4 separate regions of the Homo sapiens genome follow, and regions 1, 2 and 3 are each reported to be linked to region 4. The links are microRNA targets in miRTarBase. Many come from high-throughput screens and were not tested one by one. Region 4 holds a microRNA gene; each other region holds the end of a gene's coding sequence.

Region 1 (7,122 bases), not on the chromosome of region 4:
AGAATGAGCAAACTGTGGTAATTTCCTGATTACTCTGAACATAAAAAGAAGACTGATAAGCATAATAATATAAATGAACTTAAAAACATTATGTTAAATGGTGGCAGCTTCTATAGAAAACAGAATGGCAGATCCTGAAAAAATTGAAAATACAATTACCATATGATCCAGCAATTCCACTTCTGGGTATGTGTCCAAAAGAATTGAAAGCAAGGTCTTGAAGAGATATTTGTACTCCTATGTTCATAACAGCATTATTCACAATAGCCAAAAAGTGGAAGAAACCCAAGTGTACAAAGGAAGAAAATTCTGACACATTCGACAACACAAATAAACCTTAAGGACATTATGGTAAGTTAAATAAGCCAGTCACAAAAAGACAAATACTGGGCTGGTCATGGTGGCTCACGCCTGTAATCCCGGCACTCTGGGGGGTCGAGGCGGGCGGATCACAAGGTCAGGAGATCGAGACCATCCTGGCTAACATGGTGAAACCCTGTCTCTACTAAAAATACAAAAAATTAGCCGGGCGTGGCGGCATGCGCCTGTAGTCCCAGCTACTCGGGAGGCTGAAGCAGGAGGATGGCGTAAACCCTGGAGGCAGAGCTTGCAGTGAGCCGAGATCTCACCACTGCACTCCAGCCTGGGTGACAGAGAGAGACTCTGTCTCAAAAAAAAAAAAAAAAGAAAAAGAAAAAGAAAAAGAAAAAAAAAAGGACAAATAGTGTATGATTCCATTTACGTGACTCAGAGAAGTCAAATGCATAGAGACACAAAGTATAGTGGCTGCCAGTGGCTGGGAGGAGGGGAAAATTGAGGGTTGCTGTTGAATGGGATAGAGTTGAATGGGATAGAGTTTTAGTTTTGCAAGATAAAATGAGTTTTGGAGATTGGTTTTACAACAATGTAAATGTACTTAACACTACTGAGCTATATACTTAAAAATGGTTAAGATGGTAAATTTCATGTTATGTATATTTCACCAGAAAAAAATTGTAAAAAGCCGAAAGCATTCCAGGTAGCTCTAGTTTGCATCTAAGATTAAGAGACATTTATTTCCATCAAAACCAAGGATCTGAAAGGAACCAATTTACAAGCTCACAAGTTAGCCTGACAGTCTCACAGATGCTGGCACAAGACAAGAGACTCCTGGCTCTGAGACAAAGGACTTTATTAGTCACAACCACAGCAGTAGCCAGAGTGTCATCCTTTGCAATGGTTTTTACCACTCTAATCCCATAGAGTGACGTGAAAGGCCAGGTGCTGCTTGCATACCTAGCGGGCTGCGTTGTAGGAATAGAACTCTAAGCTTAGGAAACCTGAATCTTCTATGATAGGCAGTGGGAACAAAACCACTGCCCTTCACCCCAGAGGGAGACACTGTCTTCACTGGAGTGGTCCATAAACAAATTTGCTGCTCCAGAGGAAGACACTATATTTTTGTTCCCTAACGCGTACGCACCTTTGAAAAGACAGTGGGGAACAAAGGTGACCAGTGTCTCTACTCAAAGACATGCAGAAAAAGAGAAGTAGATACTTAAGTAACCATAGTGTCTGCAGAAAAATAAAAGAAAAAAAATAAGAGAAGCAGATACAGAGAATGAGTGGGGAATGAGGAATAATAACTAATGTTACATTCTACTTCAAAGCCAGTTGACTACAGAAGAAAAAGGCCAATTCTGGGGTTACATCTCCTTTGTGAGTGGTATGCTAATAAATGTTTAATAAATGGCTCTCCAGAAAGAAACATACGTACATTATATAAGTTTACTATAAATTTTACTAATATAGAATGTTTTCAGAACACAATTTATAAACAATAATAAAATATGCAATACTCTATTTATTATAAATTACAAATTTAGAAAACCATGTTGAATGAAAAAAAAGCCAAACGCAAGAGTATATTACAGTATGATTTCATTTATATAAAGTTCAAGAATAGGCAAAACCAACATATGGTGATAGAAAGCAAAACAGTGATTATATCCTTTTTTGGAAAGAAATGAAGGGAAAGGGGCACAAGGGAAATTTTGGGGTAAAGAAAATGTTTAACATGTTGAATGGGCATTATTTACAAGGATATGTACATTTGTTAAAACTTAAATGTAGTTAAAGTCTGCACTTTATGTAAATTATACCTGAAAAAAAAGACAAGACAGATCAGACATCTTCGGTAGCTGTTATTATGCTTCTATGGGCAGTCTAGTGGAGGCATAGCCACTGGGCCCAGTCTGCCAGCTGCATGCTATTTGTATTTATTGCCTGTAGTTGTATGAAGAGCTAGTGTTAAGTAGTGTTAAGTAGTAGTTATCAGTATAACTGATAACCCAGCATCAGTTATTAAAATGACTATTATTTCTCCAACATATTTCAAGGCTAATAAACTAACTCACTGTATACATGTGGATCTGTTTTTGGGCTCCCAATTCTTTTCCATTGATCTATTTTTTCTCTCCTGAGCGAATACCACACTGTATTAATTATAGAAAATTTATAATAAATGTTGATCTCTGGTAATGTAAGTCCACCAGTGTTGCTCTTCATCAAATTTTATCATCACACATAAGGGACTTTTTTTTTTTTTTTTTTTTTTTTGAGACAGAGTCTTGCCCTGTCGCCTGGGCTGGAGTGCAGTGGTGCGATCTTGGCTCATTGCAACCTCCACCTCCTGTGCTCAAGCGATTCTCCTGCCTCAGCCTCCTGAGTAGCTGGGATTACAGGTGCCTGCCACTATGCCCAGCTAATTTTGTGTATTTTTAGTAGAGACGGGGTTTCACTATGTTGGCCAGGCTGGTCTCAAACTCCTGATCTTGTGATTCAGCCACCTTGGCCTCCCAAAGTGCTGGGATTAGGACTAAGTTTTATAGGGAAAACATGTAAGCTAAGGGTCTGGAAGAGAAGGCACAGGACCACAATTTCTCATACCACTTGAAGAAGCACCAGGGCCTGGGTGAAGCAGGAAATAGACCACACCTCACCGCTATGTTTTTATCCTTCTTAAAGAGCAATTGTGAAGGCATCCATGTTGGTGAGGGAACAAATTGACTATGCAGGTAATCTGGACTACTTAACTAAAGCAGACAATCTGGCTTTAGTTGTCAGAGCTTCACAGAAGTTGCATGAGAAAGCCAGGTTCTAACACCTCCCATCAGGAAGAGAAAGCCGCTGGGAAGTTGAGTTCATGTAAAGCCCTTCCCACTGAAGAATGTGGGAGTCTGAGGCCCCAGATAGCTCCTCACCTAGGCATCCCAAAGGGAACTCCCAGAATTACCTTTGGACAATTCTGGTCATTGCACACAATTGTTATTGTGAATGAAACATTTTGGCTACATTTTATAAAAGACTCTTACATAGTAATGCTATGAATTTTCACATGCCAATTTCGTGTGAAACCAATTTGTTGACCCGATAATTTTAAAACAGCCTTCAATTGGTCAAATTTTACAGGTGGATTTGAATTTTATAAGTAAATAACATTATTCTCTAGCATAAAAATAGTATCTTCCTTTTCCTTCCAATGATTATGTCTCAACATTTTTTATTTTGTCTTAATCTCACCCCATGAATCTGGGCCAGTGTTGTGACTTGCTTTAATCATTAAAATGTGGTGAAAGTATCATTGAGCCTGTTCCCTGATGAGGCCTTAAGAGATCACAGCTTTTGCCCTTGAAACCCTGGCACTATGGGACCAACCCTCGATTGGTCTTCTGGAGGGTGAGAGACCATGATGACAGAGAGAACTTCGTTGTCTCATCTATGACCATCATAAAACAGCCAGGCCCAGATGAACCATCAGCTGACTGCAGATGCATGTACAAAGCCCAGTTAAGATAATCTAGCATGTCCCACACCAGAACTGCCCAGCTAAGCCCAGTTGAACTTGCCAGCTCACACATCATGAGCTAAATAAATATGTATTTAGAGCTACTCAGTTCTTGTGTGTGTTATGAGGCAGAAGCTGATAAGCATATTTAGGATAAATTATACATGAGCGAGTCTGTTACGCTTTTATCAAATCATTGGATTTGACATGCTCATATTTATTTAGGATCTCTGCATCTTCATTTGTAAATGAGATTGGCTCCCACTGATTGGGAGCTAGACTAATTTCTGCTTTTTCCATGCTACTTTGCTACAAGAGGAAAAGCAAACAATTTTGTGAAGTAGGGAGACATTCCTGTTAGCATCATATATTTAAAAAGCTTAATGTGATATGCAAGCGCTGCTCCCGGCCAAACTAGAGGATTGCCTGGGACACCTCCACCAACACTGAGGGCTGATTCTGTCATGAAGGAATGTTGCACCCATTCTAAACCCCAAAAGCTTCCTAGGATAATGTGTATCCCGGATTTTTTCTCTAACTTAATGTTTGCAAGTAGGAGTACTGGAGTATGTGGTGGACATGGACAATAACATGTGGACATTTTTATAGGTCTAGATCATTGTTGATGGAGCCATGTTATTCCATTATATGGGATGCCCTAATTTACTCAATCTCTTATACATGAACCTTCAGGTTGTTTACAGTCTTCTCATTGCAAAATTCTTAGAACATATTTCTTTCTGAAACCATATTTTCCCCACTCATGTAATTACATCCTAAAAATACATTCTGAGAAGCAGGATCATTGGCTCAAAGACAATGCACATTGTACATATGATACATATAGACAAGATCCTCTCCAGCAACTTTGTACCTGTTTTTCTTTCCCCCACCAACTTATGTAAGAACACTCATTTCCTCATTTCTACTGACATAGAATTTTTAAAATATTTCACTATTATCCACCTGATCAGTAAGAAAATGACACTTCAGGGATGGTTTTATTTGCACTTGAATGGCTGTTCTGTTTACAAACTATAACTAGCAGGAAACTGTAATGCAAGAAAAACTAGGAATAAACCATGATCCAAATGAAGAAACCTATAAGTCAATTAAAACAAAAAAGGACACTGTTTTTGAAGGAAAAAAAAAACACCTTGTGGGATGAGTGCAGTGGCCCAAACCTGTAATCCCTGCACTTTGGGAAGCTGAGGTAGGAGGATCGCTTGAAACCAGAAGTTTGAGACTAACCTGGGCAACAAAGTAAGACCCCATCTCTACAAGTACAATTTTTAAAGAAAACATCAGCTGAACACGGTGGTGTATGTCTGTAGTCCCAGCTACTCAGGAGGCTGAGGCAGGAGGATCACTGAAGCCAGGAGTTCAAGGCTTCAGCGAGCAATGATCAGGCCACTGCACTCCAGCCACCTGGGTGACACAGCAAGACCCTGTTTCCAAAAAAAAAAAAAAAAAAAAAAAGCAAAGAGATCTCCTCTCGAATTCATCTATTATCCCCAATTAAATGACAAATTTGGGGGGAAACTGACAGAAAGAGCATCCTTTAAAAACCCATTATTATACAGGTCTGCTGAGAAGAAGACTGCATCAGTCTGCAATGAACACTGTTGGTTTTTTACATGTTGTTGGTCACTTTAGTAAATGTTGATTTTATTCAATTAATTTTATTAAGACTAACCACAGAACACCTATTCTAGTTAATTTTTAATCGCATTTAAGGTGTGAGCTGACAAACCTATTCAGCATCCCACATTATAGAGTTTCTCTATTATATGAGATTTCTTACGTCGGTGGGTTATACTTTTCAGTAAAGTTTTACCACAGCTATATCATCTGGAACATTTCTCTTTGGTGTACTCACCAATGAATGAAGGTTATCACTGAAGAAGTCCCATCCATACCATTTTAGATGGTTGCACTGCCACATCAAGCCTTAAAGATTTAAAAGTTTTGAACTCTGAATTATGTTACTTCTGTATGTGGACTCCAATGACAATGAAACATATTGCTATAAAATCCCTCCATGCTAGTCAGGATAGCCTAGGCAATGCTGCAGTAATAAATAAACCACCAAAAATCTCAGTGGTGAGACACAATGAACTTTTATTTCTTACTCTAAAAAGAAATCCAACACAGATGAAGTAGTGACCTTCTATCAACCCAGTCTGGAATAAGCAGCCTCCAAGGTCACCTTGGCAGGGATAGAGAAGCCTGAGGATGTTTGTAAAGGCTAGACCTGAAAGTGGCTTATATCACTTTTGCTCACACTCCATTGGCTAGAACTCAATCACATGGGCACACTCTTAACTGCAAGGGTTACTGGGAAATAGACTTCTTATTTGCAAGGAAATGGAACCAGTGTGATAAACACAGCACTGCCTCTGCCACACCCTTCAAATGCCACTTCTATGGAGCTTCTTGCCTGTGTAGAGAATCTCATGGAAAACCTGGGTACTAACGTTCTTTCATAGTAAGAGCATGGGTTTCATTTTTGAGCACACTTTTGAATGTTCTTCATACAGAGAGTATTTTTCTACTGGGGACTAAAAAAAAATCTAAAGACGTTGGCTGAACTGAAGACCTTACCATGATCATCCCAATTAGAATTTCCTTCCTGGACACACCCTTTAATGGAAATTTGACCACTAACTACAACCACTACCACAAACCACCCATTTGTCAAAAGTAACCTCTTTGCCATTGTAGCATACAGCAGTTGATGGGAGCTTCACAGAAGTTCTTGAAATCCACAGTCCTTGCCTGGCACACTTCAGTGCTGCAGGCTGACATTATCGATGGCAGTGTCCCTGTCTTTTGCTCCCCTAGCCCTCCCACAGGCTGAGTAAGCCTCTATCATCTGGAATACAGTGTGGCTTCTGTTTTACTAATTGAACCCTGACTTACTACATTTATAATGTTTCTCTCTGCTCATGTAGTCTTTGATGAGTCAGAAGGTCCTTTCCACGCTCACAGTGTGTGTACTGTGTCTCATCTATATGCACTCTCTGATGGGCAAGGAGGTATGAATTACGACTGAAGCCCTTACCACATGCCTTACACTTATAGGGCCTCTCTCCTGTGTGGACTCTGAGGTGAACATTAAGATCTGAATTCCGGCTGAAGCCTTTACCACACTCATCACATTTATATGGTTTCTCTCTGATGTGATCTCTTTGATGTAAGTGAAAATATGAACTGTAACTGAAGCACTTTCCACACACTTCACATTTATATGGTTTTTCTCCAGTGTGAACTCTCTGATGAGTGTGAAGAACAGA
Region 2 (7,122 bases), not on the chromosome of region 4:
AAGGGCAAAATAGGTGTTTTCCCTAGGATTTGCAGTAGATTCCTCTGGACTGCTCTTCATTTATCAATAGTACTATCCAGTTCGGCTTAGAACATCATGCTAATGGCTTCATTTATCCATATTACTGTCCAGTACAGCTTAGAACATTGTGATAATTGCTTCATTTATCCATATTACTGTCCAGTTAAGCTTAGAACATTATGCTAATGGCTTCATTTCACAATATTACTATCCAGTTCGGTTTAGAATATCATGCCAATGGCTTCACTTATCCATATTACTATCCAGTTCCGCTTACAACATTATGCTAATGGGTAGTTACACTCTACCAGATAGGAGGTGCCAGATGAGGGACCGGCAGACTTGATCATCATCTCTGTAACCAGGAGTTGACAATAATGTACATATATTTACCTATGAACTCAATATTATCATCTACATACAAGTACCAAGTAAGCAGCCTTTTATAAGGACTTAACATGGGGAGGGTTTAATAACAAGCATGCCAACATGTTTGATAAACACAACTTAATAAAGTTCACATTTCATTAAAAATTACCTAGTTTTTAGCAATGAAGCTTTTTTTGTTTTTTTTGAGGCGGAGTCTTGCTCTGTCACCCAGGCTGGAATGCAGTGGCACGATCTCAGCTCACTGCAACCTCCGCCTCCCAAGTTCAAGCGATTCTCATGCCTCAGCCTCCCAAGTAGCTGGGACCACAGGCACGCACCTCCATGCCCGGCTAATTTTTGTATTTTTAGTAGAGACGGGATTTCACCATGTTGGCCAGACTGGTTTCGAACTCCTGACCTCAGGTGATCTGGCTGCCTCAGCCTTCCAAAGTGCTGGGGTTACAGGCGTGAGCCACTCTGCCGGGCCCACTTTATAATTTTAAAAGATCTTGCAGTTTTGTTACAGGTCTAAAGAAGAAGAAAAAAAAAGATCTAAGAGCCTAAGTTCAATGTATGCACTAAACAATAGTTTAACAAAAATAATTCAAGACAATACTAAGTCCACAAGAACTTTCCTTCTCAAAGGGATCCATATGTTACTAAAATTTAAAAACCGATGCAATTAATTTACTCTTCTTGTGAACTCAATTATTTTCACTTGAGTATTAGGATAACTGAAAACGTACCCAATACCCACTTTAAATTTGTCTGAATAATCATTGCAATTATCCAGATTTTTTTACATTATAGCAACAAAAAGGTAATTTATAATAATGGATGTAATCGGAACATTTGACCACCATTACTTAAGTGGCTAATGTGGCGTGATAAAGAATGAAACAATATATTTATCAATTATCAACTGTGGAAAAAATCTGTTCTTCAAGTTAAAGGCTGATAAACTACAAGGGCTATCAAATGTAATAAAGCATTAGCAAGTATCAAGTATCATGTTTATTAATTATAAATGGATGAAAGTCTTTAAATAAAAAACAGGACATTCAGTATTAAAACTAATTTTACTACATTTTAATATGAGGATGTCCTGTTAAAATCTCATTTCATGATGTGATTTTTCAGTATTACCCTGTAATCTATTATTAAAAGGAAAAAAAAAACTGAGCTGGGCAAGGTGACTCATGCCTGTAATCCCAGCACTTTGGGGGGCCAAGGCAGGAGGATTGCTTGAGGCCAGGAGTTTGACACCTGCCTGGACAACATAGCGAGACCGTCTCTACAAAAAAATTTTTAAAAATTAGCCGAGTGTGGTGGTGTGTGCCTGTGGTTTAGCTGCTCGGGAGGCTGAGGCAGGAGGACTGCTTGTTTAAAAAAAAAAAAAAAAAAAGCCTCCTTGTAATCCTTGAACAATATTTTTCTTTCATTACTCAACTACTGTACTGAACAAGCAATGCAAAGTATTCACTATGGATAAGATCAACAATTTGCTTTTCTATTGACCACAGGTTTCTTTTGACTATTGGTTTCTTAGTGCCAACTAAGAATAACAACTCTGCTTTGGTATAATCTTTTAACTGCCAAAATTTCTGGATAAAGTAGCTGCTCACTATTGACAATGACAAGATAGAAGAATTCACACATTGAGTCTATCTATTTGGCAGCAAATGGATCACTGCACAACACTTAACATGGTATTTGGTCAGTTAAACACTGGAGAAAGGATAATCCCTGGAATCTCTATAAGAAAACAACATCTATCAGCCTTTATCATTTACTTCACAAATTAACCTGAAGCAAAAACTTTTCAGATGGTCTTATAGACTACACAGAAATATGAGATGCCAGCCAGGGGTGGTGGCTCATGCCTGTTATCCCAGCATTTGGAAGGCTAAGGCAGGAAGATCACTTGAGGCCAAGAGTTTCAGACCAGCCTATACAACAGAGACCCAGTCTCTACCAAAAACAAAAAACAAAACAACAACAACAACAGCAAAAACAGACATGGTGGCGTGCACCGGTAGTCCCAGCTACTCAGGAAGCTGAGGCGGGACGATCACTGGAGCCCAGGATAGCCAAGGGTAAAGTAAATCGTGATCGCACCAATGCACTCCAGCCTGGGTGATAGTGCAAGACCCTGTCTCTAAAAAAAAAAAAAAAAAAAAAAAAAAAATTTAATTTTAAACATGAGATGGAGCAGATTCTTAGGAATTTTTTAGATGAAAAGATCCTATTAAGGATATAAACACCATAGCAACCTCCTCATATCCAATGGTTTTTTTCAATCATGTAACTCACTCCTTGAGTTTGCACAACTCCTTTATTGAAACAAAATGGACTTTAACTTGTCACTTATTTCCTATATCATTAAATACCTTCATTAATTTTCTCTTCAGAAAATACTTATTGTGTATCTTTATTTTCAACACTCCACAATACTTTTAAATAAACAACATTTTCAGTATGAACTATGGTAAGATTTCATCATTCTATAAGGCATATTATTTAGGAGGTATTCCTTCCTATGCATTTCCTATTTTACAGTAAACTCAGTATCAGGTAAAAATTAACTGCTAATGTTCCTATCAACAATTCATCCATTCCTTTTTATGACACTTTTATCTTGTATACAAAAAAATACACAATTTTCCCAAACCTTGAGGAGTTGAATTTTGTGTGTGTGTGACAATAATTAAAAGCCAGTCAAGTTGGTACTGGAAAATCATTTTGATACTTATCAGAAAAGTAAAAGCAGTGCTTTTCGATCCATCCCAGCAATAAATGATACTATGATATTACACATACAGATGCCTAAAAAGCATACTATAAAAGGAAAATTCCTGAAATGCCTCCAAAATCCTATTATGCATACTAGACTTTATCATCAGTACTTATATTCTTCAAAATGTACCTAATACAGTCACATGCTCATTAAAAGAGTTGATACAGTTTTGATGGCAGGCTACAGTTCCCTGCTGTCTTTCCATGATGCATCAGCAGAACCATTCAAAGCCACACACACCAAACCTATTAAGAAAAAAGCATTCATAATTCCCAGCTGTGTCCTCTACATTTTCCAAACAATATTAATTTCACATGTATTTATCAATATTATATATTTAGTGGGAATTAACATTAAAATCAACATATTGTTCTTAAGTAATCCAGACTAATAAACCATGAGTCAAACAAATCTACTCTGCGAAAACCTCAAATCACTCTGTGTGATAAATTATTTTAATAACATAAAGCTATAAATTTTCTCTATTTTTATATCCAAGACTAAATACCATTGACTATCCTTCAAAATGTTTATGTTCCAAAATCCTGTAGTTACACATAAACCCACAACAAAAGACATTACTTTAGAATGGTAGAAAAAAATATTTTTAAAAATTGTCAATTCTTAAAATTGGTTAAGTAATTAAAACCATTAAATCATAACACTGACCTAACAGGACAAGAAGTTTCTTTTGGTAATCTTTATTAGTATATGATCATCCTCAAGGGTCTCACTTGCTAGCCTTTTAAACAAATTTCTAAGGCAAATTTACAGTTCATTTAAAAGGTAATAAATACCACACACTCCTACAACCTTAGCCACTTTACAAAACAAAGGAAAAATTTCTTCCAAATGTTATTATAATTAAGAGCTTTTCTATATTAATTCCTCTTACAGTCTCCCAGTGTGTCTTAGATTGCCAAGTACATCTTGATTGTGACATGCAAAATGGATTCTGCTTTAGAAATGGGTTAATTGGCATGCAGATTTCTGCAGAGATCCATAATCCCACAAACAAGAGGGGAAATGAACATTATAGGGCTGACTCTGACAACATGTACTTGGCAGGGGAAGGCGGCAGGGGGTTGGCAACTTCACAATGGTGGATTTGGGGGAAGGAAACAGGACAAGAGACTGAGGTACCCAGACCCTCATCCTGCCAACAGCATTCACGTAGTTACTAGCTTCCATGTATAATAAGACACATTTTCAAAATGGAAAGGAGGTTATCAGAGAGACGGATTCAGATCATCAGTTACCATTAGACTACAGTTTCATTCAATTTAATCTTTAACCATTAAAAATTTTTAAAGACTATATTTCAAGGTAATAGTTCATTTCAAATTTAACAAATTACAAATGCACTAATTTGTATGTATGTGTATGTTCTCTATGTGTCATCTTAAAGCATTTTAAACATTTTTGATAATTAAAATGCAACAGCCATGTTGAAATTAATGTTTACATAAACTGTCAGTGACTTTATTGGCCAAGAAAAGGTAGCTCAAAGCTTTAACTTTATATGAGCTTGATAAAAGCCTTTCAGGGCATGTTTGAGAAATGTGCTCTACTATAAAAGTAACTATTTTAATATACAGCCAAGGTCAATTATTAATATTTTTCTTTTTTTTTTTTTTTTTGAGATGGAGTCTTGCTCTGTTGCCCAGGCTGGAGCAGTGGTGCGCTCTCGGCACTGCAACCTCTGTCTGCCAGTTTCAAGTAGTTCTCCTGCCCAGCCTCCCGAGTAGCTGGGACTACAAGTACCCACCACCACACCTGGCTAATTTTTTGTATTTTTAGTAGAGACAGGGTTTCATCATGTTGGCCAGGCTGGTCTCAAGCTCCTGACCTCAAGTGATCTGCCCGTCTCAGCCTCCCAAAGTGCTGGGATTAGCGGCATGAGCCACCACATGGCCAATACTTTATAAGCAAAGTTTAAACAACTAATTTAATATTTGATAAGGTTTTGGTTTGCCTATATATACTGGGGTAAAGTATGACACAAATTATTAAGCTTGACAAAATAAAAGTAGACTTTACCTGACCACCTTTCTATATTCTTCAGTGAATTCATCAAACAGCATTTTCAACAAAGCTTTGGATCCAGTACTTTGAAGTGAAACAGTGACCTAAAGCCTCACGTCACTTTGGTGAAAGCGGAACATAAATGACTTTTCAACTTCAGAGTTCATATTTGTTAGAGTAGAGAATACGAGGAATGAATAAAGTTATCCTTGTTAGTATTAAAAGCCCTAATTGGAAGAGAAAAGTCTCCAATTAGTTGACCCTATTTATTAACCAAAAGCTTCACAGAAAAACAACTAAAAAAGATATTATGCTTTAAAAAATGGGATATATATTTGGATAATTTGCAACCTATAATCCTAAAAGAACTGCCAGAATGCAAAGATCTTTTTAATATTATTATTTCTGGTGAAATCAAACTCAAAATATAATACCTAGGACTCCTTGTCCAAAGAAGAAATTAAACTAGATAATTTCTTTTCTGAAATAGTCTGCAAATTATAATTCACAAGAAGTACACAAAATAGGGTAAATAAAAGTGTGTATACATGAAAAGCTACAATAATTCCAATTTTTGCTTCCCTGGCAAGGTACTGTACATATACATCAACATAATAGAAATGGCACAGTCTCTGAGGACACGTTTCACATTTTATTTACATTTTAAGACTAACTTTAATCTCAAAATCACATATCCATACACCTATTTCCTTTTTGTTGACTTCACTTAAACTTAAATGCATGGTTTGTTAAACAAAGACTGTAAACAAATATTTACCATGTCTGTTACATGTAACACACAAGAACAGCTTTTAACAGGAATTCATCAACTCCCCCCAACATTTTTTATTATAAATACAGGTATCAAAACAATCCTGAACATATTTTTGATACTACTAGTAGTCAGCACCCACATTGCTTCAAAAATTAACACATCTGTGACAATATTCATTGTACCTGCTACTTTTTAAACAATTTCAACTGCAGCTCTCTTTCACTAAGTAAGATGGGTAAAGCATGCCATTTCTGTTTTCTTGAGATTTTTACTTTTTAGAAACACACATGCTTCCACTGCCATCTGACACTTCTCCACACGCTTTCATCTTGTAAACCTGAATTCTATTTCGAGTACTCCAGGTTTATGTTTAAATGACAGTGCCTTTCAAGAGAAAAAAAATTGTGCTGCATTTTTCCTCCTGTTACCTGAAAACATAATGGGTGTACATATATTAAATATATTCTTACAAATGTCCAGGTCATGTTTACCAGCTGGAATTCTTTTACTTAATGTGTATTTTGCATTGTGATATTTAATCAAGACATTAACATGAGTAGAAGGTTGTTGATTTAAGACAAGTTTGAGATCCACTAAAATTAATTGTTGTATGTTTGTCCTTCTGGTGGCTGTGGAAGCTTCATATTTTCTTTGGACATCATTAGACGTCTTAGCTCTTGAAGTACAACTTTAATGCTATATGAATTTTGCCATTTTGCTAACACTGGTATGCTCCGGGCATCCACCTGAAAGGGGAGGAAAGAGTACAGTTAACTAGCAAGTTTAAAGTACTATGGCACCAATTTGTTAAGCATATTTTAATAAGAATGATTTTGAAAATTCATAGCTTGCCTCTATTTTCACAAAACATACACTATGGAATTACTAATACCATAATTAGTATATTTTATCATAATTAGTTTAATATTTTGGGAAAATATAAAGACATAAAACATACAGTGAACTTTGGTCATCAGAAATAAATGTTATATTAAATAACTACTTTGTCAATAAATTTACCAATTCTTTCTTAATGGAGTAAGGTCAAAAGGTTCCTCTCCATTTCCAATGCCACCGCCCAAAATCTGGGGAATTATCTCACACTGAGATTTAGACAAAAGCTACTAACCTGATC
Region 3 (7,110 bases), not on the chromosome of region 4:
GTGACCAGGCCAGCCCAGTGACCTTTCTCCTGCTGCACTTGGAGGGAGGGGACATACACACAGTCTCCCATCTCTCCTCCCCTCCCCCTGGGGTGGCCCACCGCATGGGTACAGGGGGTTCCAGGAATCCAAATCCAGCATGGCTTGGAGGAGCTCTGTTGGTGAGAGGTCGCCCTGCCTCACTGGCACCCTGGGGGCACAGCTGGAAGAGAGGCCTGGCCCATGCTCCTCTCAGGGCAGGCACATGTACGGGGCATACAAGGCACAGCGCCTGTTGGAACAGGTGGCTGTGTTCCTGCTCTGGCCCCCGTGGGGCTGGGCCTCCGCCCCTGCACCAGTCACATGCACTGGACGAGGGCCGAAACTCCTGTCTGCTATCGAGCCCTGGTGCTATGTGGCCCCGGAGCCACAGCACAATCATCTCAGTGGCGAAGCACACCACTTGATTCTATTTTTTTTTAACACATTAAATCTGTTTTTAAAGATACTCTTCAGAGGGGCCGTGAGAACAGGGGCCGGGTGGGCTGGTCTCGGGCCGCCCTGCGGTTTCTCTGGAGGTCAGAGGCCCCAGGTACTGGAGCATCACTGTGGAGTGGGAGGGGTGGAGCCCTGTATTAGGTTCTGGGTGCAGCAGGGAGGTGTAGAGTTCCGTTTCCTTGGATTTTTAGTTTTCCCTAAGAAAACTGAACAGATCTCTTATTCCGTGGGATTGGCAGCTGCCTGGCTTTGGGCCCTGGTGACTTGGCCAACGGCAGGAGAGTTTCCCCTGCTTCCTCATCAGCCACAGACCATTCTGTCCAGTCCCAGGGCCTGGAGCCACCTGACTTACCTGGAAGCAGGCCCTGGCATTAGCCCCCAGGGCAATACGCAGTGCCACCCTCTGTGGGCTCTCCTCCCCACCCTCAGACTTTTCTGCCTCTCCTGGGACTGCCAAGGATGTGGCTGACAAGCTGCTCCTGGGAGGCCTACTTTGAAAGGAGGAAAGGGCCCCAGGGCCTGTCAAACCCTGGTTCTGTTCTGCTCTGGCCAGGTCTAGACCTACAGTCCTTCTGGTTGGACTGGGGCCAGGGATGCCCATGCCTCCTCAGGTAGGGTGGGAACTGCCTTTGCAGAGATGCTGCCCGAGCTGGTGTGAGGGGCAGGGAGCTGGCCTGCTTGCCTCCAGGTGTTGACCCCTCGTCCCCATCTGCCCCCAGTGTCCTCCTAGGAGAGGGAACCTTGAAAACCCAGAGTTGTGGAGTGCAGGGGTAGGCTGGAGGCCTGCACGGGGAAGGGAAGGGCTGTGCACCAGCTTGGCAGTGGGGCAGCTGGAGGGTGTCCCCCAAAAGTGACCTTTATACAGGTCCAGGAACAAACAGTTCCTTGGAACTGCCCGCAAGTGAAGAAATATATACATATATATGTATATATCTATATCTCAAAATCTGAGAGCTCAGGGAGGCCGTGGAAATTTGGGGAAGAAGAAACAGACTCCCTGAGCAGAGCTCAGGGCAGCAGCTCCAGGCATGCCTGCTGAGCCCATCAGGCCACCGCCACCTGCAGGAAGAGCCTCTGGCCTGAACTGCTGGGGATGGGCTGCAGAAAGCCTGAGACATTTGGGCCAGCACCTTCCCAGGGGCACAGGCCCCCAAGGCGGGGACACCACCTCTGCTCTGCCAGGCCTGCCTCCAGGGCTCTGAGGAGAAGCTGACTTCACGGCCGCGGTGCCAGTGAGGGCTGCATAGCCAGGCCTTGTCTGTAGTCTGGGCGGCCCGTGGCGCTGCCCTTCAGCCCAACTACTCATTGCCGCTGCGTCTTTGGCGAGGCTTTCATTTCCAACCTTTCTTCCCATCTCAGCCCTTTTGTTGGCCCGGGTCCCAGGAGGCTGGTGTCGGTGAGGGCAGGCCCGCTCCTCTCATCGGGGTGGCTGTGGCCTGTCCCCCAGTCCCTCAATGGCCACTTTCTATAAACAAGGCAGCACTAATTTTTGCTATAAGATAAAAGAGGCCAGGCACGTTGGCTCACACCTGTCATCCCAGCACTTTGGGAGGCTGAGGCGGGTGGATCACCTGAGATTGGGAGTTCGAGACCAGCCTGGCCAACATGGTGAAAACCCCGTCTCTACTAAAAATACAAAAATTAGCTGGGCGTGGTGGCAGGTGCCTGTAACCCTAGCTACTCAGGAGGCTGAGGCACGAGAAATGCTTGAAGCCAGAAGGCAGAGATTGCAGTGAGCCAAGATCACAACACCGCGCTCCAGTCTGCGCGACAGAGCGAGACTCTGTCTCAAAAAAAAAAAAAAAAAAGTGCAGGTGCACGCTGGTGGGGACATTAGGAGCCTGTCAAGAGTGGGTCTGCCTGCTGGCACTTACTAGACGGGAAATACCCCCTAAAGAGGGCTTAAAAAGCATCTTCTCCCTAGCACGGGGCATGCTGGCACAGGGTGCTGTGTGACAGAGGCTTGGCCGCTGGGCCCCGCTGCTGAGAAGGCTGCTCTGCCCATGCCTGGCCCTGTGGGCAGTGCCAGCCATGGATCCCTGAGACCCTGGGCTGGAACCTGGGGCCCCGTCCCAGCCCTACCTGCAGCTCACTAACCCTCTCTGGGTTCTGCTCAGTGTCTGAAGTGATGGAAAGACCCCAGGGTTGGTGGCTGTAGCGGCCCCCAGGGGTGGCAGAACCCTTTGGGAGGCCAAGTGTTCTTTCCCAAAGCTGCGCGGGTGCCATCGCCTGCCAGGCCCTGGCTGTGGTGACAGACGTGGGCTGGGGTGAGGCTGCATCTGCTTCCTCTAACAGCCGTGGCTGCCTGCGGGCTCTGGCCTCCGCTCTGGCAGATTCTGCACATTCCCTGCAGGCGCAGGGGTGGGTGGGGGTGCCTGTGGCCTCGGAGGTACAGCCAGCTGTCCTCAGCTCAGATGGCCCCCAAGAGCCCCCAGCTCCTGTTCACTGCTCTTCCAGTTAGTGACCCCCGTGTCAGCATCATTGTCAGAGTTCCTGGGCTTGTGGGGGCTGGAGAAGGGAAGGCGCTGAGGAGGGAAAGATGAGTGCAGGTTTTGTTGAAACCACCCGACCCGCGTTTTCAGGGGGACGAGGCCACTGCCTTGGCCCAAGGACCTGCAGGCTTGGGGGACCCCCTCGATGTCCACTGGGCTGCGGATGAAACATCACACTGTGGTAGGAAAGGAAGGGGAGCACCCCCAGACGGGGGGGTCCTGCAGAGACCCCAACCCCTTACCTACCTAGTTGAGACACCCATGGGGAGCAGCCCCAACAGCATGTCGGAGTCCCTAGGCTTGTGGGGTCATGCTCTGTTGAGGGCCCTTCCTCTAACTGGCGAGCTTGTTTACAGCTGAGCTCGCCTGGTCAGATGGGCCCAGTGGCTTTATCTAATAAAGGCTGGACATGTCCACTTCATGAGCATCCCTGTTTTGAAGTCTTATTTTTAAACTCTTGATCCAACGCTTGGATCAGGAATACCCCCTAGATTAACAGTTGGGGCATAGGGCATAAAAGTGGAACATTGATCAAAGATACCGTAATCATATCCATCGTTTTCTGTCTTGAAGAACAGTTTTCACCTGGAAGTAGAAGGCACAGGGGAGGCCTGGCTCACCACAACGCTCCCTGCCGTGCCGAGAACTGAGCCCGTGTCTTTGTCACAGGCCCTCACCAGCTGGGCCAGGAGTGGCTGGCTTGGGATCTCCACCTCCCGAGCTGAGCTCACCTAGTGCCCAGGGCTTGTCAGAGGTCCCAGGGGGAGACAGGTGTTGGTGCAAAGTCAATGATTTCTCCTTGCAGATGGGCTTGGTGTGAATGCAGGTGGCCGTCAGAAGGGCTGTCCACCTTCCTTCAGGGGGCCGCCTGCACCAGACCCCAGGCTCCCAGGCCTGCCCAGGCTTGGCATACAGTCCCCTGGGGTGACAGCGTGCAGGGGAAACTGCAATTCCATGCCCTACAAAGCCCCCAGGTGATGTAGAGGCCTGTAGCAGGCATGGGGAGACCTCTGCTGTCCACAGTGCCAGCACCCCCTTCGGCTGACACCTGTGCTTGACCAAGGTTCCAGGCCTCAACTTATGGGGCAGGCATTGGACCTTCTTTTTTTTTTTTTCCAAGACAGAGTCTTGCTGTCACCCAGGCTGGAGTGCAGTGGCATGATCTTGGCTCTCTGCAATCTCCGCCTCCTGGATTCAAGCAATTCTCCTGCCTCAGCCTCCCAAGTAGCTGGGATTACAGGCACGCACCACCACATCCAGCTAATTTTGTATTTTTAGTAGAGATGGGGTTTCTCCATGTTGGTCAGGTTGGTCTCAAACTCCTGACTTTGTGATCTGCCCGCCTCGGCCTCCCAAAGTGCTGGAATTACAGATGTGAGCCACTGGGCCCAGCCCAGAACTTGGTTTTATCCACCTCTGGTGAAACATGAGCTCACTTGGTGCTCTCTGGCCTCTTTATTCCCATCTCCTTAGGCTGACCCTGACAAGTGCCAGGGCCAGGCTTGGACCAAGCAGTCAACTGAGTCAGCCTGCCCTGGGAACCAGGCAGGGGAGGGAGCTTACGGACGGGCTAGGCTCAGGAGAGTAAGAGAGAGCAGATGAAGGGCAGAAGTCCGTGGCCGCAGAGGCAGCTGAGCATGAGGGATGGAGCGTGCTGCTGTCCTGCAGGTGCCGTTAGCCCTGTTTTGCACTGGTGGATTGATCTGCTCAGGCGCACAGGGAGATGGCACAGCAGGACCCGCCGCCCAGCCTCGCTGAGGGCATGCTCCCGCCTCACCTCCAGAGGCTGTTGGGCGGAAGCCGAGAGCTGCAGCAGTTGGGGCCAGCGTGGGACTGGAGGCCCAGGTGAATCTTGTGGGGCAGGGGACGGAGCTGAGGCTGTCCGGCCCGGGCCCTCCCCACCCAAAGGCCCTAGAACCCTAGCCTTCAATCCTGGGGGTTTGCTTCTCCCCTGAGTCCTGGCTTTCCTGACCTGCCGTCCGTTAGGGACAGGTGGAGGGGCCAAGTCTTGCCATCAGAGGCCAGTGTGGTGGTGCCAGAGCTACGGGGTATTCCAGGACCCCTGACCTAGGCACGGGGCAGGAGGGCCCAGAGCCACCTGGCCACTTGTCAGGAGCTTAGGATTGGGAGGAAAGAGGGAGCCTGTATCCAGACTAAAGCCAGGGGTCTGCATGTGTCCTGGCTGGCCAGGGCCACCCTCCCAGACCTCAAGCCACCCCACCTACCACTGCCCACCTGGTGCCACCCCAGCACTGCCGCAGACCTGGCCCAGCAGCTCCTGCTCCTTAGCAGGGGATGAGCACGCCCACCACAGCCACCCTCTTCTCCAGGCTGCAGGGCAGGCTCCAGCTCCCCATGGGGGCCCCATCAGGCCAGGGCCCCTGGCTTTACTGCAGGGGAGAGGGTCTCTTGTGCAGACCCCATATGGCTCGTGCCCCCTAGAGCTGAGATGAGGCAGCCGGCCTGGCTGTAGCTGCACGGAGCCACCTGGAAAGCCAAAGGCAAGCTCCAGCTCCAGACCAGGCATTGGGCCAGCCGTGCCTGTTACCGTAAGTTCTGTTCATGGCCTCAACCAACTGCCCAACCATGCGGGCAAATGACCAAGACGCCATCTCTTGGGCCCCTCAGAACCAATGTTGCAGCAAGGTGGGCTCACTGCAGCAAGGGGCAGAGCCACCACCACGGTGCCTTCTGCTCACTGGGGAGGGAGGAGTGTCCCCACTGGTCGGGGCTCCCCCGCCTGCTGGAACCTCCCAAGTCCTGCCCCCTGCATTTCCCTGTGCAAGGGGAGAAGGAGCAGTAGGAGACCCTCATGCAGGAGGGAGGGAGCCGCAGTCCTCAGGGGAAGGGACACAGGGAGAGGCAGGGGCACAGAGGCAGGAAAGGATGGCCAGAGCCCAGCCTACTTTCTGCTGAGCTCCTTGGCCCGGCAGGTGGCAGCCTCCACGGCGCTCATGGTGGCTGCTCGCAGCCCGCCCTGCTCCAGGGCGTGGAGTCCATAGATGGTGGTGCCACCCGGGGTGCACACGTCTGAGCGCAGCTGGGCTGGGTGTTGGCCCTCGTGCAGCAGCATCTTGGCCGTCCCCTGAGGAGAGCGTTAGGGCCTGGTGACGGGGGGAGGTGGTGCGGTCCCCACTGTGCGGCCTGCCCTCGTTGCATCCCCCAACCTTGGCCCCAGCTTCTCGAGCCTGCTGTTTCCCTGCGCACTGGAAGAGGTACAGGCCTGGGCCTTCCCGATGTTCCCCAGGGGCCACCCTCACTCACCAGCAGGGTCTGGGCAGCGATGCGGTGGGCCAGGCTGCTGGGCATGCCCATCTTGACGGCTCCTTCAGCCAGGGCCTCGGAGAATGCACACACCTGTAGCCGCGGCATGGTGGTTGGGGGGGATAGGTGTCAAAGCCTGGGGGCTCAGGACCTTCAGGAACAATGCCCAGAGCAGTAGCCGTGGGTGGCCAGAACCAAGGCCTGAGCCCAACGGTCTGCAAAGGGGCTGGCCTCAAAGATCCCCAAGGCAGTGAAGTCCCGGGGACAAGCAGAGCTCCCAGTGGGCCTGGGGAGCAACCACGCAGGCCTCAAGGTTGGACTCTGAGGGCAGAGGCTGTCAGAGGGACTGGGGTGGGCCCCCTCTTTGCCGAGGGTGGGGCCGGGGATGGACGAGGCAATACTCACGAAGGCCACGCCACTGCCACTGAGGCCAGTGTGGATGTCGACGTAGGCTTCAGGCACCTCCTCACACCGCCCACAGGCCTCCAGCAGATGCTGCAGGAGCTTGGTCTCGCTGCTCCCCACGTGGCGGCCCCGCGCCATCACTATGGCCCCTTCCTGGACCACACAGGGCAGGTTGGGCAAGACCCGCAGCACCCGTGTGTTTGGGGGCAGCAGCTGGCCAGAGAGAGGTCAGAATCAGGGAGTCTGTAGGACTGGGCCCTGCTGGGCAGGCCCCAGCAGGGGCCTCAGGAAAGGTCCACGTCAGCTCGCGGTGGGCTCCAGCGTCTGCCTCCCAGGTACAGCACCAGGAGGGAACCCTAAATCCAGCCACTTGATCCAGGTGGGCCACACGGCCACCTCTCAGGCTCTCTGGGGGGCTGCCTGCCGCCCAAGCCTGGCCAGCAGAGCCTATACTGGGACCAAGGCCTTAGCC
Region 4 (7,122 bases):
GCTAATTTTTGTATTTTTAGTAGAGATGGGGTTTTGCCATATTGGTCAGACTGGTCTGGAACTCCTGACTTTGTGACCCATGCACCTCAGCTTCCCAAAGTGCTGGGATTACAGGGGTGAGCCACTGCACCTGGCCGAAAATGGATTTTTATTTTCTACCACATGGTCAGGTTGCAAATTGTCTAAACTGTTATGATCTGCTTCCCTTTTAAATATAAGTTCCAGTTTCAGATAATCTCTTTGCTCACGCATAGGATCATACACTGTTAGAAGCAGCCAGGCCCATCTTGAATGCTCTGCTGCTTAGAAATTCCTTCCATCAAATACCCTAAATCATCATGTTCAAGTTCAAATTTCATAGATCCCTACAGCAGGCGCACACTGTCACCAGTCTCTTTGCTAAAGCATAGCAGAGTTGAGAGGTGACAACATGCTGGCGGCTCCCGCTCACTCTCGACGCCTCCTCGGCCTTGGCGCCCACTCTGGTCATGCTTGAGGAGCCCTTCAGCCCGCCGCTGCACTGTGGAGCCCCTGTCTGGGCTGGCCAAGGCTGGAGCGGCTCCCTCTGCTTGGGGGGAGGTGTGGAGGGAGAGGCGTGGGTGGGAACTGGGGCAACGCGCAGCGCTCATGGGCCAGCACAAGTTCCAGGTGGGTGTGGGCTCGGCGGGACCGCAATCAGAGCGTCCGGTCTGAGCTGCCGGCCCAGGGTAGTGAGGGGCTTAGCACCAAGGCCAGCAGCTGCTGAGGGGGCTCCGGGTGCCCCATCACTGCTGGCCTGCCCGTGCCATGCTTGAATTCTTGCCAGGCCTCAGCTGCTTCCCTGCAGGGCAGGGCTCAGGACCTGCAGCCCGCCATGCCCAAGCCTCCCCAACCCTCCCCCCACCCCGTGGGCTCCTGCGTGGCCCAAGCCTCCCCAACAAGCACCGCCTCCTGCTCTGTGGCGCCGGGTCCCATCGACCGCCCAAGGGCTGAGGAGTGCAGGCATGCAGCGCGGTACTGGCAGGCAGCTCCGCCTGTGGCCCTGGTGCAGGATCCGCTAGGTGAAGCCAGCTGGGCTCTTGAGTCTAGCTGGGACTTGGAGAACCTTTATGCATAGCTGGAGGATTGTATACACACCAGTCAGCACCCTGAGTCTAGCTTAAGGTTTGTAAATGTACCAATCAGTGCTCTGTGTCTAGCTAATCTAGTGGGGACTTGGAGAACTTTTGTTTCTAGCTCAGGGATTGTAAACGCACCAAACTGCACCCTGTCAAAACGGACCAATCAGCTCTCTGTAAAATGGACCAATCAGCAGGACGTGGGTGGGGCCACATAAGGGAATAAAAGCAGGCTGCCCCAGCCAGCAGTGGCAACCCTCTCAGGGTCCTCTTCCGCACTGTGGAAGCTTTGTTCTTTCGCTCTTTGCAATAAATCTTGCTGCTGCTCGCTTTTTGGGTCCGCACGTTCTTTATGAGCTGTAACACTCAGCACGAAGGTCTGCAGCTTCACTCCTGAGGCCAGCAAGACCACGAACCCACCGGGAGGAATAAACAACTCCAGATGGGAGTATTGAACAACTACAGACGCGCTGCCTTAAGAGCTGTAACATTCACGGGAAGGTCTGCAGCTTCACTCCTGAAGCCAGCGAGACCACCAACCCACCAGAAGGAAGAAACTCCGAATACGTGTGAACATCAGAAGGAACAAACTTTGGACACACCATCTTTAAGAACTGTGACACTCACCGCGAGGGTCCGCAGCTTCATTCTTGAAGTCAGTGAGACAAGGAACCCACCAATTTGGGACACAGAGTGACCTTTACTCCAGTTCCTAGTAAATTTCTCATCTCATCTGAGACCTCCTCAGCCTGGACTTTATTTTCGTATCACTATCAGCATTTTGGTCACAACCATTCAACACAACTCTAGGAAGTTCCAAACTTTCTTTCGTCTTCCTGTTTTCTTTTGAACCCCACAAACTGTTCCAACCTCTGCCCATTACCCAGTTCTAAAGCTCCTTCCATGTTTTCAGGTATCTTATTAGCAATGCCTCACTTCCTGGTACCAATTTTCTGTGTTAGTTCGTTCTTACACTGCTATAAAGAACTACCTGAGAATGGGTAATTTATAAAGAAAAGGGTTTTAATTGACTCACAGTTCTGCAGGCTGTACAGGAAGCATGGCTAAGGAGGCCTCAGGAAACTTACAATTATGGCAGAAGGTGAAGGAGAAGCAGACAGATCTTACATGGCCAAACAAGGAGGAAGAGGGCAAAGAAGTTGTTGCCACACACTTCTTTAAACAACTGGATATCATGAGAACTCGCTTAGTATCACGAGAACAGCAAGAGGAAAGTCCTCTCCCATGATCCAGTCATCTCTCCCCAGGCTCCTCCTCCAACAGTGGAGGTTACAATTTGGCATGAGATTTGTGTGGGTGCACTAATCTAAACTATATCATATAGCCACTGTGACCACAAAGTCAATCATAGTATAAGCATATTTAAGTCACACATTCATTATAGATCTTGTCTTCACAGGCCCTCCCTGGGTCACAACTTCAAGATTTTAGATAAAGAGGTCAAGCTGGCTTGGGTGTGCATGCAATTCATAAGGGTCAGAAGAAAAGACAGTTGGCTCTGCCCTTTCCTGAACTATAAAACCAGCCATAGTCCTCTGAAGGAGGTGTGTGCTTGAGATTTTGATCCATTGTGCTGTAATTAATGACTTAGGGGGAAAGGCATTAAGATGTAGGTTTGAAACTGCAAATTACTAGAACAACTGCCTGTTTCATATTCTGCTATTTACAAACTGTGGTGGGGGAAAACAGTAACAACCTATAAGGAATCTTGAAAAAAGAAACTGCGTGACAGAGGAGATCATTGTTCTCTGTATTGCAACACACATTCAGAGGCCCTTGAAGTGAAATAACTTAGATATTTTTTTCTTTTTTGTTTGTTTTCTGTTTTTCCCTTTGGGCCGTCTACAAGTGAACCAGTCTAAATTGGTTTAATCAATCAATAGGAATTTGCAATTCTATGCTAAGTGCAACAACAGATAGTAAAAGACTATAAAATACAAAGAGGTATTCTGTGAAATTGGGGCATACAAGAGACAGGCTTCCCCTGCTCCTTTGATCAGTCTCTCAGATATCTCCTAGGGCTTGAATACCAGACATGTCACCACTTCCAAATACTTCAATATTGGCTACCAGAGGAGAAAGATTCACTTCTGGTCTGTCATTCTAATATGGTCTTTAGACCCATGGGGCTAAGTGATAAAGGTTCACAAGTCTTCTGTAATATTGAAAACAAACAAACAAACAAGAAAACACTAAATTAAAGCCTTTTTCAGGTAACTAAGAAAAACCTGCTCAGACTTAGATCAATGTCAGGCTTCTTTGCTTTGTGTAAAGTAACAACTCATTGGAATAACTCTGGTTGAAGTGATATAGCTTGTGCTGATCAAAAAATTTGGAGAGTATATACCTATGATTAGTAAAAATGTCAAAAAGCCTATTGCTAAATAATTTAAAATGTGGAGTCCTCAGTGGAAAAATTATCTGTGTGCCTATTATTGGGGTTCAGAAAACAATACCCAAAAATATGACAATGTGCTCTTCCAAACAAAGCACAGGATTTAGGCTTTTCTCTGAAATTTCCTTATCTACTTTAAGACTGGACCTGCCAAAGGAACCCAACTGCCCTCCATTCCCTCTCTGAAATCTCATTACCTATCACAGAAAAGAAGACAGGAATGCAACCATATCTGGAGGGACATTTTTATAAGATAATGTCTCTCAGCCTTATTTGAATTCCAAAGAGAATCATTTCCAAGTTAATTTTTGTCTGTTGAGTCCATTCATTCCCCCTAAAAATCATTTACTACCCCTCAAAATTGCTACAACCTTGATTGCCCCTTCTCCTGAGAAGGTTATATAAATACCTGGACCTCATTGAGTTATTGGGCCATCATTCTCCTGTGATTCCCTCGTACTCCTGCACATTAAATAAATGTTGTATGCCTTTTTGTATTATTAATCTGCCTATTTTCAGTTTATTTTCAGCAAACCTTTAGAGGGCAGAGGGGAAGCTTTCTTTGCTCCTACAGTATATACCAATGAGATTTACAGAGGCAAAATGAGAACTTTATTTTCTAAAAGCAATCTGCAGACTGGGGAGATGCAGCCTTCAGTGCAAACCAAAATACACACCGAAGAGGAGTCAAGGAGTAGAAAATTATTATAAAGGCAAAAACCATAGGATGGAAGGGAATCAGTTGTAGACTCTAGGTTGGATGGCCCTTAAGCAAGACATCACAAGACTCTATTGACTGGCTTAGGTGGTCTGTGGGTGGTCAGTTGAGGAATTTTCACCAGCAATCTATCTTAGGATAAATAACAGAAACTGGTTTAGTTTGATTGCAGAAAGAGGTCCTGTGACACTTTTAAAACATTTTCCCAAGAATACAGAGTATGTGATCCCTTCCTCACCCAGCCTTGGCTGCCTGGTTCTGTTTTAACCTTGAGCACCTCAGTTAGCCAAGAGAAGTCCATTTTGTCCATCAGCCAAGAGCATATTTTAACAGTGTGTGGAATAGAAACCCAAACCCTAAGTGAATCCTTCTTTATATGAGTCTCTTTGTACCATTTTCTCTACTCTCCAGCTCAGACATGAATTTAAATTTTCCTTTTTGCCCCAATTTTTATCTATAGATTCCTCAAAGTAGTCTGAGGAATGTGAGGTATGTAACATTTTTCATGCCCAGAGAACCATGAGCATGAGACTTCACTCACCCTCTCATCCCACACATCCATGCTTGGAGGGTAATTGTTTAAAGGCATTTGGTTTTTTTCTTTCCTTCCGTGTAGTTTCCAGACTAGCTGATAAACTTCCTAAAATATTACCCCAAGTTTTACAATGTGACTCTCACCTATTTTCTTCATGTTCCTGGGATTTATGATACAAAGAATAATAAATAGTCAACAGCTTATTATTTCAATAAACAATATACCTTATTTAAAAAATTTTTAGGAACTGCCTCTAACTTCTACTTCTTCATTTTTTCTTTGAAAATCCACTTGGAACTGCTGTAAATGCTAACAGCAGCATATATTCAGGACTACTTGAATCTATGACTCTTGGACAGCAGTCCTCAACCTTGGCACAAATAAACTGTTCAATTATATTAATTTTGCTTCATTTTCAACCTTTAGGTGCACAGAATGTTAGAATAGGTAGCTAGGCAGACATGAGCATGGCAGGAGAGGGCCTTCTACCCCGTGAAGGGCAACCATAGCTGGTGCCAGGAAATGGCAGTCTCCCAAAAGACAGAAAACACGCGAAACTGGTGATCAGTAGCTTCCTAAGATCTCAGGAGTTTGGTGAGCAGGCTTAAGTATGCACAGTAAAAGGCAAAATGGTAGAGTTTAATTGGTATATGACCTTCCTCTAGGAACACTCCACTGGTAAGGGAAAAATGCCTCAAATGAGCATGTGCACAATTGCAGTAAACACTGTGCATGCAGCCCCTCTCAAGTGCTGACAGACCACTGCACGTATGTACAGATAGCCAGCCCAAAAAAAAATCAAGGGAGATGAAATGCAAACCCCAGAACCACGCCAATGTATAAAACCCCAAGTCAAGGGTCGGATGGAGAGCACGTGGATCTCTCAAGTCACCCACTTGGCCCTTTTCCATGTTTACTTTACTTCTTTTCATTCCTACTGTAAAACTTTTTAATAAGCTTTCACTCCTGTATTCCTAGGCTTACTATGACTGATCAATAAAGGTCACTGAGATTCAGATCATAAGATTTAGATGGGTAAATATGGCAAATATTAGGGTATTTTCATTCTTTCCTCTGGGAGTCAATGTTATCTCTCACAAATATGAATGTTACATTAATACTAACTGACAATATTAAGACTGTTAAATGAGCTTTCCTCTATCCCAGCATCTTGTTTTGAAGCATGGTGTTCTAGGTGTTAGGAAGTAGAATTTTACATACTCTTTTCTTTAAAGGTCAATATGACCTATTATTTGATGGAGAATTTCATGTTAACACAAACAGATTGTTGTGAGGAAAAGTTAAAAATGCACACAGTTTTAAAATACAACGCAAGATTCAAAGAAACTAAATGTTTGTAAACTATTGCTTATATCCAAGTACTTGAATCCCTGATAGTACGTTTCCTTTTTTCTGACTTTAACAAAATAATAGCATTTTCTGAGCCCTTACTATGTGCCAGTCACATACTTAATCCCTTCATACATCCATTATTTTATTTAATTCTCACAACAATTCTAGGGTGTAGGCATTATCACTACCATTTTAGATGTATGAAAACTGTTCATAAAATGTTAAGTAACTTAGCTAAAGTCATCAGTAATGTATAGTATTCAGATTCAAAGTCACGTTTATTTGAATCCCAAGATCACTTTTCTTGGCAGAATTAAATAATTAATTTAAGAAATTGAGAATTACTGATTACCAATCACAGTAAGAATTAGAGGTTTATATGCCTTGAGATCTCAACTTAGATCTTCCAGAAATCAATTTTAACATCTGGACAGCTAGTTAAAGATACTGTGCCAGAATAAAACCTAATTTCCAAGTAACAAACATTTCCTTTTAAGTTTGATTAATGATAATTATTATGCCAGGATACACTTAACTATGTATTAAATGAAATGATTAGTTTAAATCATGTAAGCCTGAGGATGAAGAACAAGACTTGTATTGTGTTAACTCCAATGAAAATAGGACAAAGGTGACTTTATGCTTGATTTAACTAACCTGTTTGCATATTGGCTTGCAGTTTCATACAGGTTACATAAGATTTAAGTGCTAATCATGTTCTGAGGTTGAGGAATGTTGTTGCTGTTATAAATGAATGTAGATTCCCATCTCTTCCCTCAACATGCTCTTTCCCTTACCCTCCACATCATCTAGTCCCATTGCTTTAAAAAGCATCTATATATTGTGATTCTTCAACTCATATATCCTAATTTTCTCTCTTTTCAGAACACCAAATTTAAACATTTTACTGCATCCTTGCCCTCTCCATATATAAATCTGAAGTGTATCCACGCTTTGTGTAGCCAAAACAAGACTACGGATAACACCTCTTCCTACCCCAACC

Evidence for each region. The annotated mature microRNA hsa-miR-924 reads AGAGUCUUGUGAUGUCUUGC and lies in region 4 at 4,285-4,304, opposite strand. An mRNA with a match to its seed (bases 2 to 7 or 8) in the 3' UTR can be bound and repressed. Matches are read on the target gene's strand: a 7mer-m8 pairs with bases 2 to 8, a 7mer-A1 pairs with bases 2 to 7 and ends in A, and an 8mer does both.
Region 1: the mRNA of ZNF285 is a reported target of hsa-miR-924. Seed matches in the 3' UTR shown: 7mer-m8 at 2,605-2,611.
Region 2: the mRNA of UBE2V2 is a reported target of hsa-miR-924. Seed matches in the 3' UTR shown: 7mer-m8 at 4,834-4,840.
Region 3: miRTarBase lists PYCR3 as a target of hsa-miR-924. Seed matches in the 3' UTR shown: 7mer-m8 at 4,093-4,099.

The regions. Positions count from the first base shown.
Region 1 is chr19:44,379,719-44,386,840 of GRCh38, forward strand. ZNF285 (zinc finger protein 285) reads right to left here. Exons shown (of 4, transcript NM_152354.6): 4 at 2,580-7,122. The coding sequence ends at 6,754. Among named protein-coding and RNA genes, the nearest start is that of ZNF285, 18 kb to the right of the region's middle.
Region 2 is chr8:48,060,293-48,067,414 of GRCh38, reverse strand. UBE2V2 (ubiquitin conjugating enzyme E2 V2) reads right to left here. Exons shown (of 4, transcript NM_003350.3): 4 at 2,707-6,733. The coding sequence ends at 6,587. Among named protein-coding and RNA genes, the nearest start is that of UBE2V2, 55 kb to the right of the region's middle.
Region 3 is chr8:143,599,829-143,606,938 of GRCh38, forward strand. PYCR3 (pyrroline-5-carboxylate reductase 3) reads right to left here. Exons shown (of 6, transcript NM_023078.6): 4 at 6,639-6,851; 5 at 6,234-6,326; 6 at 3,382-6,054. The coding sequence ends at 5,872. It overlaps TIGD5 (tigger transposable element derived 5), which reads left to right. Exons shown (of 1, transcript NM_032862.5): 1 at 1-3,396. The coding sequence ends at 4. Among named protein-coding and RNA genes, the nearest start is that of TIGD5, 5.6 kb to the left of the region's middle.
Region 4 is chr18:39,617,869-39,624,990 of GRCh38, forward strand. MIR924 (microRNA 924) reads right to left here and starts at 4,307; the gene lies at 4,255-4,307. All of the region lies in intron 2 of MIR924HG (MIR924 host gene), which reads right to left.